3 separate regions of the Homo sapiens genome follow, and all the other regions are reported to be linked to region 3. The links are microRNA targets in miRTarBase. Many come from high-throughput screens and were not tested one by one. Region 3 holds a microRNA gene; each other region holds the end of a gene's coding sequence.
Evidence for each region. Region 3 holds the annotated microRNA hsa-miR-629-3p (GUUCUCCCAACGUAAGCCCAGC, at 3,249-3,270, opposite strand). A microRNA usually pairs through its seed, bases 2 to 8, with sites in the 3' UTR of a target mRNA and lowers its output. Matches are read on the target gene's strand: a 7mer-m8 pairs with bases 2 to 8, a 7mer-A1 pairs with bases 2 to 7 and ends in A, and an 8mer does both.

Region 1 (5,071 bases), not on the chromosome of region 3:
ATAAGTAAATCTAATTGCCTAGTCGTTTTTTTAACACATATACATGCAATGTATCTGGATGAATAGAAGGCTGAATTGAAGCTTTCTTTATATTTAAGAGGTAAAAAGAAATATTAATACTTTTAAAATATACTAACAACCAAAAAGTGTTCAGAATTTTGCTATAATAATAATTTGTATTAAAATAGTACCTAGAAAAATTCAGTCTATGGAATAGGTAAAATTTTAAAATTTTAATTTGCTCTCAGAGTTCTGTCTGATAAAATAATTGAACTATAATTGGCATGATGAATATTCCCAGGTTTTACTTCAGTATATAAATTTAACTCTCAGCCACATGGGCTTTCCAGACTTTTCAATACATATGATGTTGCAGGAATTGCAATATTTGCAAACATGTGCCACAACAGTGTTCTTGGTGATGTTTCTAAAACAGTTTTTATTCTATTAATGTTAAATTTTCTAACATAAACATTTAATTGATTAATGTAAAATTTTAGGAAGGAACATCTTTAATTTTCAATATGAGATGGTTGCAACCTTTAAAGTAGTACATATTTGATTTTTTTTAAAAGGCAATATTTTTTTTTCTAGGAAAACTATTCATTATGGTTATTTAACTGCATATGTTTTTTAAATTTTTCCCTCTTGGAACAACATGTACTGGGGCCTATCAAAGGGTGGAGGGTGGGAGGAGGGAGAGGAACAGGAAAAATAACTAATGGGTACTAGGCTTAATACCTGGGTGATGAAATAATCTGTATAATAAATCCCCATGACACAAAAGTTTACCTGTGTAACAAACCTGCATATGTACCCCTAAACTTAAATTCTTCCCTCTTTTTGTCTTGGGCACAAGTTTTTGGGATATGGAAAAGTTTATTGTATCCCTTTTGAATTTTCTTCTAAGATGAACTTTTTAAATAAAAGATATTACTGCTTTTATATTTAATCTGTCAACATTTATTGGGACATTTTATGTAGTAGGCAGTATATAAAAAGCACTGGAGATGATAAGATATTTCAGATATTGTTACTGGCCACAGGAGGTTTCAGAGCTATGATTGAGTGATTGATAGAAACATACAAAGGGAGTCATGGGAAATATGGGGAGTTGTTCACTCAGCCTGGGGGCAGAGAAGGGGAGTGGTCAGGAAACCTGAGTTGGACTGACAGACAGGCAATCCAATAAGTAAACATGCAGGGAAGTGGGAGTCTCAATAAGGCAATAGAATTTAGTCCATATGGCTTGAACAAAGTGTATACATGGGAAAGTGTAAACATGGAAATGTAATCTAAGGCCTTGTGCGCTTAAGGAGGAACAAGAAGGCTGTGAGAAACCTAGGAAAAACTTTTTGGCAAAGTTGTAACAGTTAGTTAGACTTGGGTTTTGGAAGATACCCAGCAGTATGGAAAATGGGGCTTATGATAAGGTGATCTATGTTAAAATCTAAAAGTTTTGGTTTGTATTAAAATATGCTTTTTAAATGTACCATAATGAAAAAGAGGTAATTTTAGCTTCCCTTTCCTATCAATCAGTTAAAATGACAAATGCTAAAACTAAATCGAAGCTGCTTTGCTTTCAGAAGAGCAGAATGAACAACAGTCTTGTGACACTTAAGTGGTAATCCAATATGTTAGTTTAGTTTAGCAAAATCTGCACATTTCATCTAATGATAGGAACTTTAACAAAGCAGTTTTCTAAGTTGTAAATTTGGGACACATTGATAACCACTTAAAACTGTATGTAAATCTAATGATTTAACAACTAACTTATGATCTACTTTTTCTGCCACTCATAATTAGTAGTAGCTTGCATTTGGCATTTATCTCTTTAGAACTTCTTTTATATATGATTTTATTTAATGCTTACATCATCCTGATGCCATCTCTTAGGTGCCAAGAAGATAGTGATGATTCTTACAGGTGAGAAAACAAACATGACTATTTTATAATTAAATCAGTAACACTGCCAGAACCACTACTAAACTGTACTGATTGATTGAATAGATGTTGTGTATTCTAAAGCATATCATGTTACTTTTAAAAAATAGGATATTTAACTTGATGTGAGTTGAAATAAGGATTTCTCCCATTCCATTTTCATGTTAGTATTTTAGGTGTGAAATAATATATATTTACCACATTTGCTGAAACAAAAGTTAAGTGTACTTAAATCAGGTAACTTTTTGTCAAGCAAAATAAGACCACCAATGCATAGTACAAAATTTTTAATATACATGCAACAAGTATAGTACGCATCAAGGCAACAGAATACACATGGAAATATTGGCGTATAATTCAGCATTCTTTTGGAGGCAAGAGGGAGGGTGAACAATAAACACTACCACCTAAAATTAAAGATTGAGACATACATGGTTTCCTCATGCAAACAGTAACAAACTACCTTTAGTGTGAAACGAACTCTGTAGAAACCTGATTTTATAACAGCAGATGAATTTTATACCAAGATCTCCAAGAAAGGAGGAAAAGTCATGATCCTCAGATGTAATGTTTAAATCTGCATTTAGCAGCATGTGAAGATGCACAAATTACACATTAGACAAATCTGAAAAATTTTACGATTATGGAATCTTGAATTTCCTTCTACATTATAAAAATGTATGTAAAACCATTGTTTAATTACTAAAGGATAATAAATGTTGGTTGAGAGTGGACCATGAATGATAAAGCATTTAAACATTCTGATAGTTCATAGGAAAGCAGCAATAGTGCTCAAGTCCAGCCTAAAATTTTCAAATTTCTCTTTATCCATTTCCTCACTCCCTTCTCCCAAAGTTTCCATTGTCCTCATATTATACCTACCTTCCATCCCCCATGCTGATGAAAACCTGCTTTGGATACTTCACTCATAATCAGGTATGTAGAATTGAGAAATTGAGAACAAAAAATGTATCATTTCTCAAGAATATTTGCATTTCTACAAGTATTGAAGCCTTAAGCTTAAAGGAATAAAGCTCTGAATATGTTCTGGCACATCTAAGATAACTTATTTTAAGGGCTTCCAGGCCTTTGTCCCTGAAGTGACACTGTTTGACTGTCTTACATAAAAGACTTGCCTTGTTACTACTTATTATCTTAAATTCCAAATTATGAGACTAAGCTCTAAATATTGCAGAAAACCACCACACTCCTACATTTCTAACACAAAGAATGAATGTGGTAACCTCAGCTCTTTTCTCAATAATAATAAACAAAAAAACCATATGAAGTCCTCAGTAAGTACTGTGGCCTCATCATGTAAACAATGTATAAAATTTCTTTGGCACAGCTAATCATGTTTTCCTCATATTACTTACTATAGAAAATACACGCCATACATTTTCAGTATGGTGGGATTTTTAGGGATTAATGTAGCTGTTTCAAAAATTGCAAAAAAAAAAAAGTACAGATTACAACTTTAAAAAAAAAAAAACTAATTTTACCTGTGTATAAGTGTGGGGATGTTTTAACATTAAAATGTTTTAAAATGAGACTCTGGTGTGATTAATGATAGAGGCTATAAAACACACATGACACACTTCATTGTTGCACAAACAGGAAAAAGAACCAGCACTGAATATCAGACATATATTAAGTAAATATGATAACTATCCTACTGATCCTTGTTTAAAAGCCTCTCAAATCCTTAACTGAACTTGAACTCTTTCCTGGCAAAACAATTTTTCAACGTTTGTTCTACATTTTGAAATGTTTCTAGTTTTTGAGGCATACTTGATCATACTTTTAAATTGATAATCTTTTAAGAAAATCTTGGAAAACAGTTTATTCATTTTGCCTAAATGGCATAAAATACTGTAAAATATTTTCCTTGTGGCACTAACAAATTAAGTCAGTAACTACCAAAACAGGCATGTTCCTATGGAATTTATAAAATGTTAAGTGGAATGCTGAATTGATACCAAATGGTAAATATTAAAGAAAAACTGAATAAGCCACTGTGAAAATGCAGCTGAGAACTTTCCCGTTATTAAAAACAAGGCATTTAAAGCATAGAACTTAGGAAGACATTAATGAAAAAATGAAATTAACTTTTTTTTTTTTTTTTTTTGAAAATCTGAAAGAATGAAAAAATACTTAGCTTAAGTCTCTGGAGTCTCTGGAATAAAACCTTGAAGTCAGTCTCTGGCCACTAAGGTGTATTTAAATATATAAAAATCAGCTGAACAATATGTACAATTTGCTATGAATGATTTGGCGGATCTTTGAAAGTTTTTTTTTTTTTAAAGCCTATTCCATTTTGAACTTTCTCAATGACAAATGTAAGAATTTTAAAAATGAAAAATGGCAGGATCATTATGTTTTTCACTCAAAATCTCTTATCTGGAGGGGATTCTCTCCAAGCAATAGAATTTCAGACATGTACCAGAACAATATAAAATTTCAAAGGTCTTCCCAGCAGTCAAACATGTAAATTAAACATTTACAACATAAAAAGTTTTGGCTTTTACACAAAAATTTTCAGGATGGAGTTAGGCCTGGACTTGTCATCTCTGTTGTAGGACTTGCAAGGTAGTCATTAGATTTTAAGCTTGTTAGAGACTTGTAACTTGCCACTGACGTTAGAGATCCACAGAGGCCAAGTAATGAGGGAGTATCTTCCTTACCTGAAAATTAGAATTAAATAGCAAATAATTAATTGCCCTTCAAGAATGATACAAATAAGATCCTAAAACCATTAGAAATTGGAAGAATCAATACTGTGAAAATGACCATACTGCCCAAAGAAACCTACAGAACAAATTGCATGATTGACTGCTATCCCCATTAAAGTACCAACATCATTTTTCACAGAATTAGAAAAAAAATCCTACAGTTCATATGGAACCAAAAAGCACAAATACCAAAGCAATCTTAATAAAAAAGAACAAAGCTAGAAGCATCACATCAACTAACTTCAAGCTGTAACCAAAATAGAAAGGTGCTGTTATACAGACACAAAGACCAATGGAACAGAATAGAGAACCCAGAAATAAAGCTGCACATGTATAGCCATCTGATGTTTGACAAAGTTGACAAAAGTAAGCAATGGGAAAAAGACTCTCTATTC
Region 2 (5,071 bases), not on the chromosome of region 3:
TATTCTCTACTTAAATGGAGAAGGTTTGGCTATTTTCCTGCATGGCGTTTTAGATGGTTGAATCTTCTTGCTTCTGGAAGTCTTTACAGCTTCTGGAAGTCTTTACATAACCCTACAATGCTCTCAACCTCCTCTGAAGAGTCCCTATCTTTATGAATTGCCAAATAAACTAGTTTGTGCTGACTGATTCCTTTTTTAGAATTTGAATTGCATTCCTCCTTCTACCTGAAACCTCGGTGTACACACGTGCATGCGTGCACTCACACACACTAAAGAGAATAGAAATTGCACATTAAGAGGTATCTTTGTGCTGGTCTGACAATCACTTTGTTCCTTTTTGTTATTAAAGATAAAAAAGGTGGTGTCTAAAGAAAGCTGGGCTCCTCCTTGCTTGATCCTCAGGACTTCCGCAAGGATGAATTAAGTTATTCCACTTATTCCAAGGAGATGTGCTTACATTTGAAACATTGTATCAGTTACTTTGCCACAATAAAGGTTAGTAATCACGTGGGTTGGCCATCCACTTTGTGGCTCTTTCAGTCTTTCCCTCTCCCATAAACTAGATTAGTGGGTTAGTCAGCCAACATCACTAGAAATATAAGGAGATGGAAATAATTGTAGGTATATTTCTCTCAGCTATTGTGGCTGGACTATTTAGGTCAGCTGAGGGAAGACGCTAGAGGTAAAACAAACTATTTTTAAAAATACTGGTGTGGGGCCAGGTGCGGTGGCTCACGCTTGCAATCCCAGCACTTTGGGAGGCCAAGGCAGGCGGATCACAAGGTCAGGAGATCGAGACCATCCTGGCTAACATGGTGAAACCCCGTCTCTACCAAAATTACAGAAAATCAGCCGGGCGTGGTGGTGGGTGCCTGTAGTCCCAGCTTCCTGGGGAGGCTGAGGCAGGAGAATGGCGTGAACCCGGGAGGCGGAGCTTGCAGTGAGCCGAGATCACGCCACTGCACTCCAGCCTGGGCGACAGAGCGAGACTCCATCTCAAAACAAACAAACAAACAAATACTGGTGTGGAAGGGTACCAAATTATTAACCTGCTCAACATGTCATCAGTTACTATTTCTCAGTTCAGCTTTCATTCTAGAAAACTACTATGGAGCCGTTAACTCTCATTTGGATTACTGTCCTTTCAGCCAGTCTGGTGAATCAAAATTTTTTATTTATTAAATATCCCATTTTTCGCCTGTGGCAGGGTGGTGGTCCAGAGGCCTTGACTGAAGGGGACTGGAACAACTTGTCTGTGCCATCTCTGGGCTTTTCTCCTCTACTACTCTACTGCTCAGTGCAAACAATGTATCTTCTATTAGATCCATTACTTCAGTTGTGCTTTGAAGGGGGCAACAGGTTTCTTAGTGGGTTTTGATTTTAGTACCTTGATGTTAATCTGATTTATGAAATTCTCCATGGAGTTCATCTGAGTTTACCGGATTCTGCTCCGGAATATGAGGCCTAAGTCCCAGATAATAAAAATGTATTTTGGCTTGATCTCTTGGGCATTTATTTCTCCTCGGACTTTGTGGTGAAGAGGTTAAATATTCCTTGGTTATTCCTAAATTATCTGGTCAAACATCCTTATATTATCATTTTTAATGTGTCATACCTCTTTAGCACATTTCCAACCACCTGCCACTTCTGTTAATTAAGTAGCGTATTAACTTCCTCCAAATAATATCTTTAAAATCCCACCGTTTTCTCCCTCAGAAACTTAGTATGGTATTCAAGGATGCTAGAATTCTACTGCTCACAAGATACTAGAGGGGACCCCTCCGAATACACACCCTGTGCTCCAACCTCCCTGCTCACGCTCAGCTGCACTACTTCTTTCCTGCCGCTGCACACTGTGGTTGTGTTTGTTCAGATTTGGGAGACAACATGTCCCTCCCAGAACCTCAGAAAATTCAGTAATTTACAAAAGGGACCAGAGATTTAGTGTCAGCATATGAAACTCTGCAGGGAGATCAGTAATTAAGGACTATTTGATGTTCCAACAAACCGGCCCAGCCTCACAAGCTTTCCCTCATGTAGAACTCTGACAGATTTTCATTTATTGGAATAATGCAAATAAGAAAATTAAAAAGTCAATTTGTTGTCACTGCCAGTATTTTACCAACCTTTATAAATGGTTAAGTCTGAGCTAGGAGAAACTATCTTTTGTGGCAGACATTTCACCCAGGACAAGCTGTGCTTAGGCTTAGATACTTGGTTTAGAAATGCCTGCTTATTAGGACAGTATCTTCTGCAAACTCCAGGCTTGGATCTTATCTCAGAGTGCATATGTTTCACCGGACTCTGCTAATCATCCCAACCCTTCCTTTCCTCAAGGAAAAATACTCTGTACTCCCAGATCTATTTGAGTATGAACCACCCTCAGAAGTATCAGGACACTGAAGCCCTGGAAAAGGAATGGGTAAGATGGGAAGTCCCAGAAACCAGGGAACTTGGCTGCAAGTGTTACCTTTATTTATTTCATATATGTATATTTCCAGAAGGACAACGGTTGACTGGTATTAAGACCAAACCAGTCCATCAGAATATCATCGACCAAAATGAGAATTTCCCTGTTGGGCCATTAGGGTTGGAGTCTTATTAACCCTCCCCTATTCCTCGGGCCCATAATGCATTATGAGATAGAGGAGAAGAAACCAGGCACAGAAGACTCTCCCTGTCATGCTTTAACCCCATACCCTGTGCTCCACTTATGGAGGACGTCTCCCCAGTTCTTGCCACTCCCACAATCAGAGAAGGTGAGGTTCATAATTATTCAGCCTCATCTCCAAGGAACCTTTAACTGGCAACAGAGATTGTTGGGCCATCATGAGATGCTACTTTCTAGCTCTATGAACATAAAATCACGTAAGAAAAAGCAAACAACACAAATACATGAAAGCCATTTACTCCTGGTGAATTCCTCAGGGTCCCAGGTTCAACACTTTCCGTGATGTCAGAGTACTCAGTCAGGGATGATGGGGACAGGGTGTCAGAACAGTCTTGATGGTCTTGCCAGCAACAGCTTTTTCTTATTTTCCATAATTTGGTCTTAGTCGTTCTCCAGTTGTCTTCATGTAAATAAAGTGGCCCATGGCAATCATGATTCTGTAATTGTTATAGTGCCTTTGTAAGTTGACAGTTTCCAAATCCCCTTACTCATACGACCCCTGTGAAGGGGGGTGTGAAGGGGTTGGTGGGCTTGTGCATATGAGGGAATGTGAACGATTTCATTATGACCGAATTATGCTTTACTCAATAAGCACTCAAACACTACCATCTCACTTGTAGTAGAAGTGCTAGGGATGCAACCAAGAGACTGGTTGAATAACGGGAAGGTTAAATGCATGAGTATTTTAATAGAAAAAAATATTAAAAACAAAACCAAAACTCGTATGGAAAGAGGCTTCTGACTAGGCCCTCCTTTCTAGCAGTGTTTGGCACCTGATAACAATTTGACGCTGGGGGAGGGAGCAGCTTGACAAGGTCCACATGAAGCAGCCTTGAGATTTTTCGCCCACTTCCATTTCTCCTCAGCATCAAAGGAAAGTGCATGGTAAGAAGTGAATCAGACAGCGAGGGATCTATGCAGTTATCCTGTGAATGTGTGGCAAAGCCATCAGGACGCAAACCTCCTGTCTTGAGTCCAGAGCTGTGTGCTTTAAGATTTGACCCCAGTAAAGACAGAATCCTTCAGGCTCGTCCCTTCCCAAACCTAAGGGGCTGTCCTTGGCCACTTTCAACTTGAAGCTGTTGAGCAGTCTTTAGGATATGTAACAGCCTATTTTTTGGACGATATAGGAACCACGACCTCTTAAGTCTCTTAGTTCTCCTACTTTATACCCATGAGGTAGAGGCAGGTGCACTCCAGTGAAGGAGAAGCCTCAATTCAGGTTGTACTTTGGATGAAACATCCCCTCAAGGCGTAGAGGAAGGCTGAGAGGTTCTGCCCAGGCTCGTGTTTAGTTGCAGGAAGAGGTAATGTCAGATCTGAGCAGGTCAGGGAGACTCCCTCGAAAAGGTCTTCCCAGGCTGACAAGAGGGCTTTTCCTCTTCCTCACCTCCCTTAGGTGAGGGCTGAAAGCAGATCTCCTCACATGGGGACCTAGCTAGGAGGTCTTTTCTGAGTGGGTCCTCTGATGCCTAATTAAGTGATATCCTCTGCTGAAGCTTTTTCCACAGGTAGGGCACGTGAATGGTTTCTCCCCAGTGTGTGTTCTCTGATGCCTGACGAGGTGGTCCCTGCGACTGAAGCTCTTCCCACATTCGTTGCATCGGCAGGGCCTCACTGAGGCGTGTCCTCTCAAGTGCTTGGCGAACGCTGCGCTGTGGGTGAAGCAGCGCCCGCACTCGCTGCAGAGGTAGAGTTCCTCAGCAGCGTGCGTCTTCCGGTGCGCCAGGTACCGCCTGTGTTCACTGAAGTCCTCACCACACTCTCCACACAAGTAGGGTTTGCCTCCCAGGTGGATTCTTTGGTGTGTTGTTAACACAGATTTCTGGCTGAAGCTTTTGCCACAAATAGTACAAAAGAAGGGTTTTTCTCCAGTATGTGTCCTCTGATGTCTGACAAGGTCTGAAGTCCAGCGGAAGTGCTTTCCGCAATCATCACATCTATAGGGTTTCTCCACTGATGGAGTTCTCTCAGCCTGTGTCACAGGGGAGGTCTCTTCCAAATTCTTCCGGTTTAGGGGATATTTGTAAGGCGCGTTCATCTTGTGAACCTTTTGGTGCCTGGCAAGATGTGAGCTTCGTGTGTAACTTTTTCCACATTCCATACATTTATAGGGTTTCTCTCCTGTGTGAGTCCTCAGGTGTCTAACAAGGTGGGAGTTACAAGTGAAGCTCTTTCCACACACAGAACAGTCATGATGCCTCCCTAACAGGGGGTGGACGGGTGTAGTTTCCCGAAGGTTCACAAAACTATTCACTTGAGAAATATTAGTACCAAATCTTCTTTCATTAAGTCTACCTGGATTGTCCTCAAAGACTATTTCCCAATCTGGAGTCTGGTGAATTTCTGGTTCTCCCAAAACAGGCCTGTGTATATCCTCCAAACTCAGATCTTCCTGCT
Region 3 (5,074 bases):
AGTCTCTTCGCAATCTCTGTCTGCAAAGGCAAGGAGACCACATGAAGCTCAGGCAAATAAATCAAGTCACTGAAATGTCATAGGCAAGTGGAAATGCAAACTCCCCCCAGACCACAGCCCCTCTCCACGGGGCTCCATCCTTTCTGCCCTCAGTCAGCCTCCTACCAGGAGGCTCTAGCTAAATCCACAGCATGAAGAAATCTCTTTCAACTCCCTTGCAGCCAGGCTGCCTACATTTTAGGGAGCTCCAATTTCCATCAGAGGTAGTCTACATGTCTGGTTCAGAATATAGTTTGCATCCTCTGGATGGAATCCCTAATTAAAGCAAAACGAAATAAAAATCACCCCCAACAACCCAGCAAAACCCACTGTAAGAGTGAAACACAGTTTAGTGAGAGAGGAATTGCTCTGCCCACTGGTGCCCAGTGCCAATAGGACATGAGCTCTCAGATAAATGGGACTAAGCTGATAAGCGGTCCTATGTGGCAAAGGGTTCCCTGGGACTAGCCTCTCCCTCACCAAGATCAATCCCTCCCCCACATATATGCTACCAGGCTAAAATCCTACCATTAAGCCTTCTTTCTTTTTTTTTCTTTCCCATTAAGACAGGGTCTCACTGTCACCCAGGCTGGTGTACAGTGGTATGATTTTGGCTCACTGCAGCCTCGACTTCCTGGGCTCAGGTGATTCTCCTGCCTCAGCCTCCCAAATATCTGTGACTATAGGTGCACTGCCACTCCCAGCTAATTTTTGTATTTTTGTAGAGACTGGGTTTCGCCACGTTGTCCAGGCTGGTTTCAAACTCCTGGGCTCAAGTGATCTGCCCACCTTGGCCTCCCAAAGGGCTGGGACTACAGACAGGAGCCACCATGCCCAGCCAACACTTCATTTTTTAGGATATAGCATTGCCTTGTCTAAGAAGCTGCTCAGAGATGTAATTCATTAGATCCCTAATCCCTCACAGAAGTCAATCTTAGAAAGGTAGATCAATTCTCTGCCTCATCTCCCAACACCCTAGAAAAGACTGCATTTAGAAAGTCAACAGTTTCCACCAGTATCCTATGTAAACTTTAGATCTCAGATCAAGAGTGGTGCTATACGGGTTAACTGAGTCCAGATAGAAAGGCCTAGAACCACTGACAGACGACTCTCAGAATTGCTTTTCTTATCTCATTCTGAATCCTGAGCCCGCCAGGACTGAGGTCCCAAAGCTGGCTTCAAAGCTTTCATCAGCACATAGCAATCTTTCAGAGACAAAACCATGACAACAGCCTTTAAAAATCTGTGATCATCTGCATGTCAAATGATTCTGGATGAGAAATCCTTGTGCACTTAAAATAAAAACAATCTGAAGGCGCATAAATAGACCCTGGACCTCGGGAGAATTCCTTGGGCTAACACCCTCCACCCCCTCCACCCTTGGCCACTAAAGAGGACGCCTCTGGTTTGTGGAAAGGCAGGCCATCAACTAAAGAGCCTTATGGGTTTTTGCAGGCCTGTGTCCTGGGCTGCCAGCCACGGTGGCAGGGCTCGCCAACCTACGGAGCCTGTCCGCTACAGTGGGGGTTCCTGGCAGGGAGAGGATCAGGAATCACTGCTGTCAGCTTTCTGCCTAGAACACTCTAGCTCCTCAGGAACAGAGTCAGTGTTTCCCAGCCAGCACCACTGTTGGCATTTGGGGAGAGACAATTCCTGTTATAAAGGACTGTCGCTCATATCCCAGGCCAACTGTGTCAACAATGGCCCCCACTTCCAAACTGCCCAGCTCAGACCCACTGGGACTCCACATTGACACATGTGTGGGGCACTCTAGCCAGGACACCATACATCAGGGTTTCTCAAACACCATGCTATTGACATCTGAGGTCAGATAATTCACTGCTGTGTGGAGCCCGTTCTGTGCACTGCAGGGCTTTTAAAAGCATCCCTGGCCTCTCCACCCACTAGACACCCGTCATTCATACTCTAAGGAACCCAGGAGGATTACTAAATAATCATTATATAAATTGTTAATCTAGTTAAGTGGGAAGAGCTCTCCCAAACAGGGTCCTTCCTCACTCTGCTTATTTTTTCCTCGCCTAAATCAACTGATAGTAGGAATGGGGAATGAAGCAAAAAAGTCCGGGTTGGATAGGGCAGGAGTTCTAGAAACAAGCATAGGCTGCAGCTCACTCCAAACCGGCAGAGTAACAAGTTCTCTCACCTTTGAGTTCATGCACCAAATAAGAATAGAAAGATATGTAAAAAACAAAAAGCAAACAAAAATAAACAAAAAAAACCAACCTTACTGTTTAGGAAGCTCACAGGTCCAAGGCCTGTTATCTTAAACAACAATAGAGCAGTGTCTGGCACACAGTAGCTGCTCCGTAAATGTTTGGCCCAAAGAATAGTATCACTGGCATCTCTGCATTTATTGAGACTTCATATTGCAGTGACCCCTTGCTGTGGATCTGGGCCTGCCCCAGCATGGGCAGCATCTGTGGGAGGGGCCGTGGTGGATGGAGTGTTGACATACACTTGGTGGCCAGTGGCCCAAGCCCTTCACCAACGGGGTGGGGTGGCACCTCCAAGCCAGGCCAATCGCAAGCCACCTAGATGGGTCCCTGGCCACTACTCCTCCCCACAGCCAGGAAGGCAGGGGCAAGGTCAGAACATCCCCAGTCATTCTGGCCTCCTCAGCAACTATTAACTCTCACAGTCTCTGGGAGAGCAGGGAGGCAGGGTGATTATAAAAGGGTTCTGGCTATGGCCTCCTTCCACTGGTAAACAGGCCAAGGGTCAGGGTCTCGGGAGTTGACAAAAAAGAAACGTAGCTGACCTTGCCCTTCCCCACACCCTTCAGCAAACACGTGGCCAAAGGCTTCCCACAGACAGGATCTTCCCATAGGGCTGGTCTGGAGCCCAGCTCACTCTGGTTATGAGGACAACGGATCTCCCAGGATTTATGTAGCCATCCGGGCCATCAGGTGACCACAGCTGGGTGGCTCAGGGCAAGTCCTCTCTCATTCTCACCCCTCCACCCTCCTAAAGTAGTTCCTGCCTCCCAACACCACAAACAAGCATCAACTGAGGGCTATCGCAACAATGCCACACAGATGCAGAACCTTCCACAAGCCTGGGGTAGTGGCATTCAGGCTGTCTTTCCTGAGGCCCATGTTCGACGAAGAGAGGCCTCTCTGCAAGGCAGGAAGGACTTTGGCACGTCACCAGACAGGACTGTGTAGGGTTGAGGCAGGCAGAGGGGAGGGGCTGGGCTTACGTTGGGAGAACCTCCTGGTTCACCGTAAAAGTTCTCCCAACGTAAACCCAGCCCCTCCCCTGGGAAAGGGACATGAAGCAAGCACATCCCATCCCTCCCAGCTGTCACTGTGCCATCATCTGCTAGTACCCTCTTGGGGTCTCCCCACAAAGTGGAAGCAGGGATTGGGCCTCCCCCATCTCTACAAAGGCTGCCCAACCCTGAGAATGGGCTGCGTGCACTCTGCAGAGTCAAAGCATGAACAGGAAAGCTGTTCGCTCAACATTTTAAAGAAATGTTTATTTTTTGGAGGGTGGCGCTTGGGGGAGGGGAAGTTCCTGGAAATGGAAAGCTGGCTTAACAGAAGCCCTCCTAACAACAGTAATGACCGCTGATATCACCCACCCAACTCGCCATGTGTGCATCCACAATAACCCCGCGGAGAAGGCGCTTGTCAACATCTCCACTTTTCAGATGGGGAAACTGATGCCCAGCCATTAAGTGATTTCACTAAATGACTTCCTACCAAGAAGCCAAATTTTGACATTTCAAGAGAGCTTAGAGAAATATTTTTGAAAGAAAAACCACCATTAAGGTTAATAATTGACAGCACTTCTGATTAGAACAGCTGTTAAAACAGCATTGGATCCAACTCAAACAAGCTCTAAACATCAGTTCCAAAAAAGGAAAAAAAAAAAAAAAAATCAAGTGTGACTTCAACAATTGGGACAGGTCACAAATCACAAACTGGAACTCGATCGTATGTTGGAAAACTCCTTTTGGCAACTTGGCGCAATCCGTTATCGATAAGGCGGCTGTAGTTTCCAGAGGCCGACCTCCATCCTTCCCTCCATCTCGGTCCCACAAAGCCACTGCTTTTGAGCCAGGTCTTCAGAAGCGAATCTGAGAGGTGGTGGGAGGTGGGAAGATGGCTCCCTTTGGAAAGCACTTTGGAAAAGGTGTTCAGGGAGGCTGGTGCCGCCTTTGAAAGTTTCTTTTCAAGTATGGTTCAAAGCAGGCGCTTTGTTGGTGGAAAAACATTGTTCCTCAGAAGGAACTAATCTACTAGATACAGACAGAGAAGCAGTTCAGAGAAATGGGGACAGAGGTCCTGCTACATCCGGAATCTGCACTACCAACTGGGCGCTGGGAGTAACATCTGCCCTGCATCTCTGTCAAGATTGTTAGGCAAATAAATGACAGAAAACAAGATAGTGGGGGGCAAGTGTAATTTCCCAAACAGCAATCTGTTCCATGCGCCTTAGTAGCTCCCATTTGCATGATCATCTCCTCATTAAAGCAGGACCTCTGAACATCTTGCTGTAAACCGAGGGTACTTGAGCATTCTAAAAGTCTATTTCTCTAACCACAGTCTAGTATTCACGTTTGCTGCTACTTCAGACTATCCTTGGCCCTTGACCCAAGACACTAAATTAAGGGAAACGGAGCCTGCTCTTGATCTGTACCCCCCAGCAACCTCCTGCTCCTGGGCTTGCAGCACCCAGCCAGTCCTTGCCCTTATTTTTAATTTAGGTGACTGTGTCCAACACACCGTCGAGAGCTACTTCCACCAGAGAGTCTGTCTGCTAGTTAGTTTTAAACTGCCCTGTCGTGTGTACCTGTGGACTCTGAATGCACAATTCCTTTTAACCTCAGCCAAATAAAGGCAAGGAGAAGAGAAAACTGCCCCTTCAAAGAGTGTGTTATGCTCCAACGCCACGCAGAGATGAGCTGGCTTCTACCTCCAATTCTGCCTCCATTTAGTTGTGTGGCTTTGGGCAAATCACTTCCCTTCTCTAGGCATTAATTTCGTTGTCTGCAAAATGAAGGGATTAA

Region 1: the mRNA of RUNDC3B is a reported target of hsa-miR-629-3p. Seed matches in the 3' UTR shown: 7mer-m8 at 2,789-2,795.
Region 2: the mRNA of ZNF202 is a reported target of hsa-miR-629-3p. Seed matches in the 3' UTR shown: 7mer-A1 at 3,527-3,533.

What each region holds. Positions count from the first base shown.
Region 1 is chr7:87,829,442-87,834,512 of GRCh38, reverse strand. RUNDC3B (RUN domain containing 3B) reads right to left here. Exons shown (of 11, transcript NM_001134405.2): 11 at 2,217-4,628. The coding sequence ends at 4,483. SLC25A40 (solute carrier family 25 member 40) reads left to right here. Exons shown (of 12, transcript NM_018843.4): 12 at 1-945. Among named protein-coding and RNA genes, the nearest start is that of SLC25A40, 44 kb to the left of the region's middle.
Region 2 is chr11:123,721,888-123,726,958 of GRCh38, forward strand. ZNF202 (zinc finger protein 202) reads right to left here. Exons shown (of 9, transcript NM_003455.4): 9 at 2,027-5,071. The coding sequence ends at 4,110. Among named protein-coding and RNA genes, the nearest start is that of ZNF202, 17 kb to the right of the region's middle.
Region 3 is chr15:70,076,139-70,081,212 of GRCh38, forward strand. It overlaps MIR629 (microRNA 629), which reads right to left and starts at 3,330; the gene lies at 3,234-3,330. TLE3 (TLE family member 3, transcriptional corepressor) reads right to left here. Exons shown (of 20, transcript NM_001105192.3): 5 at 1-20. RefSeq lists enhancers at 2,181-2,787, 2,788-3,394.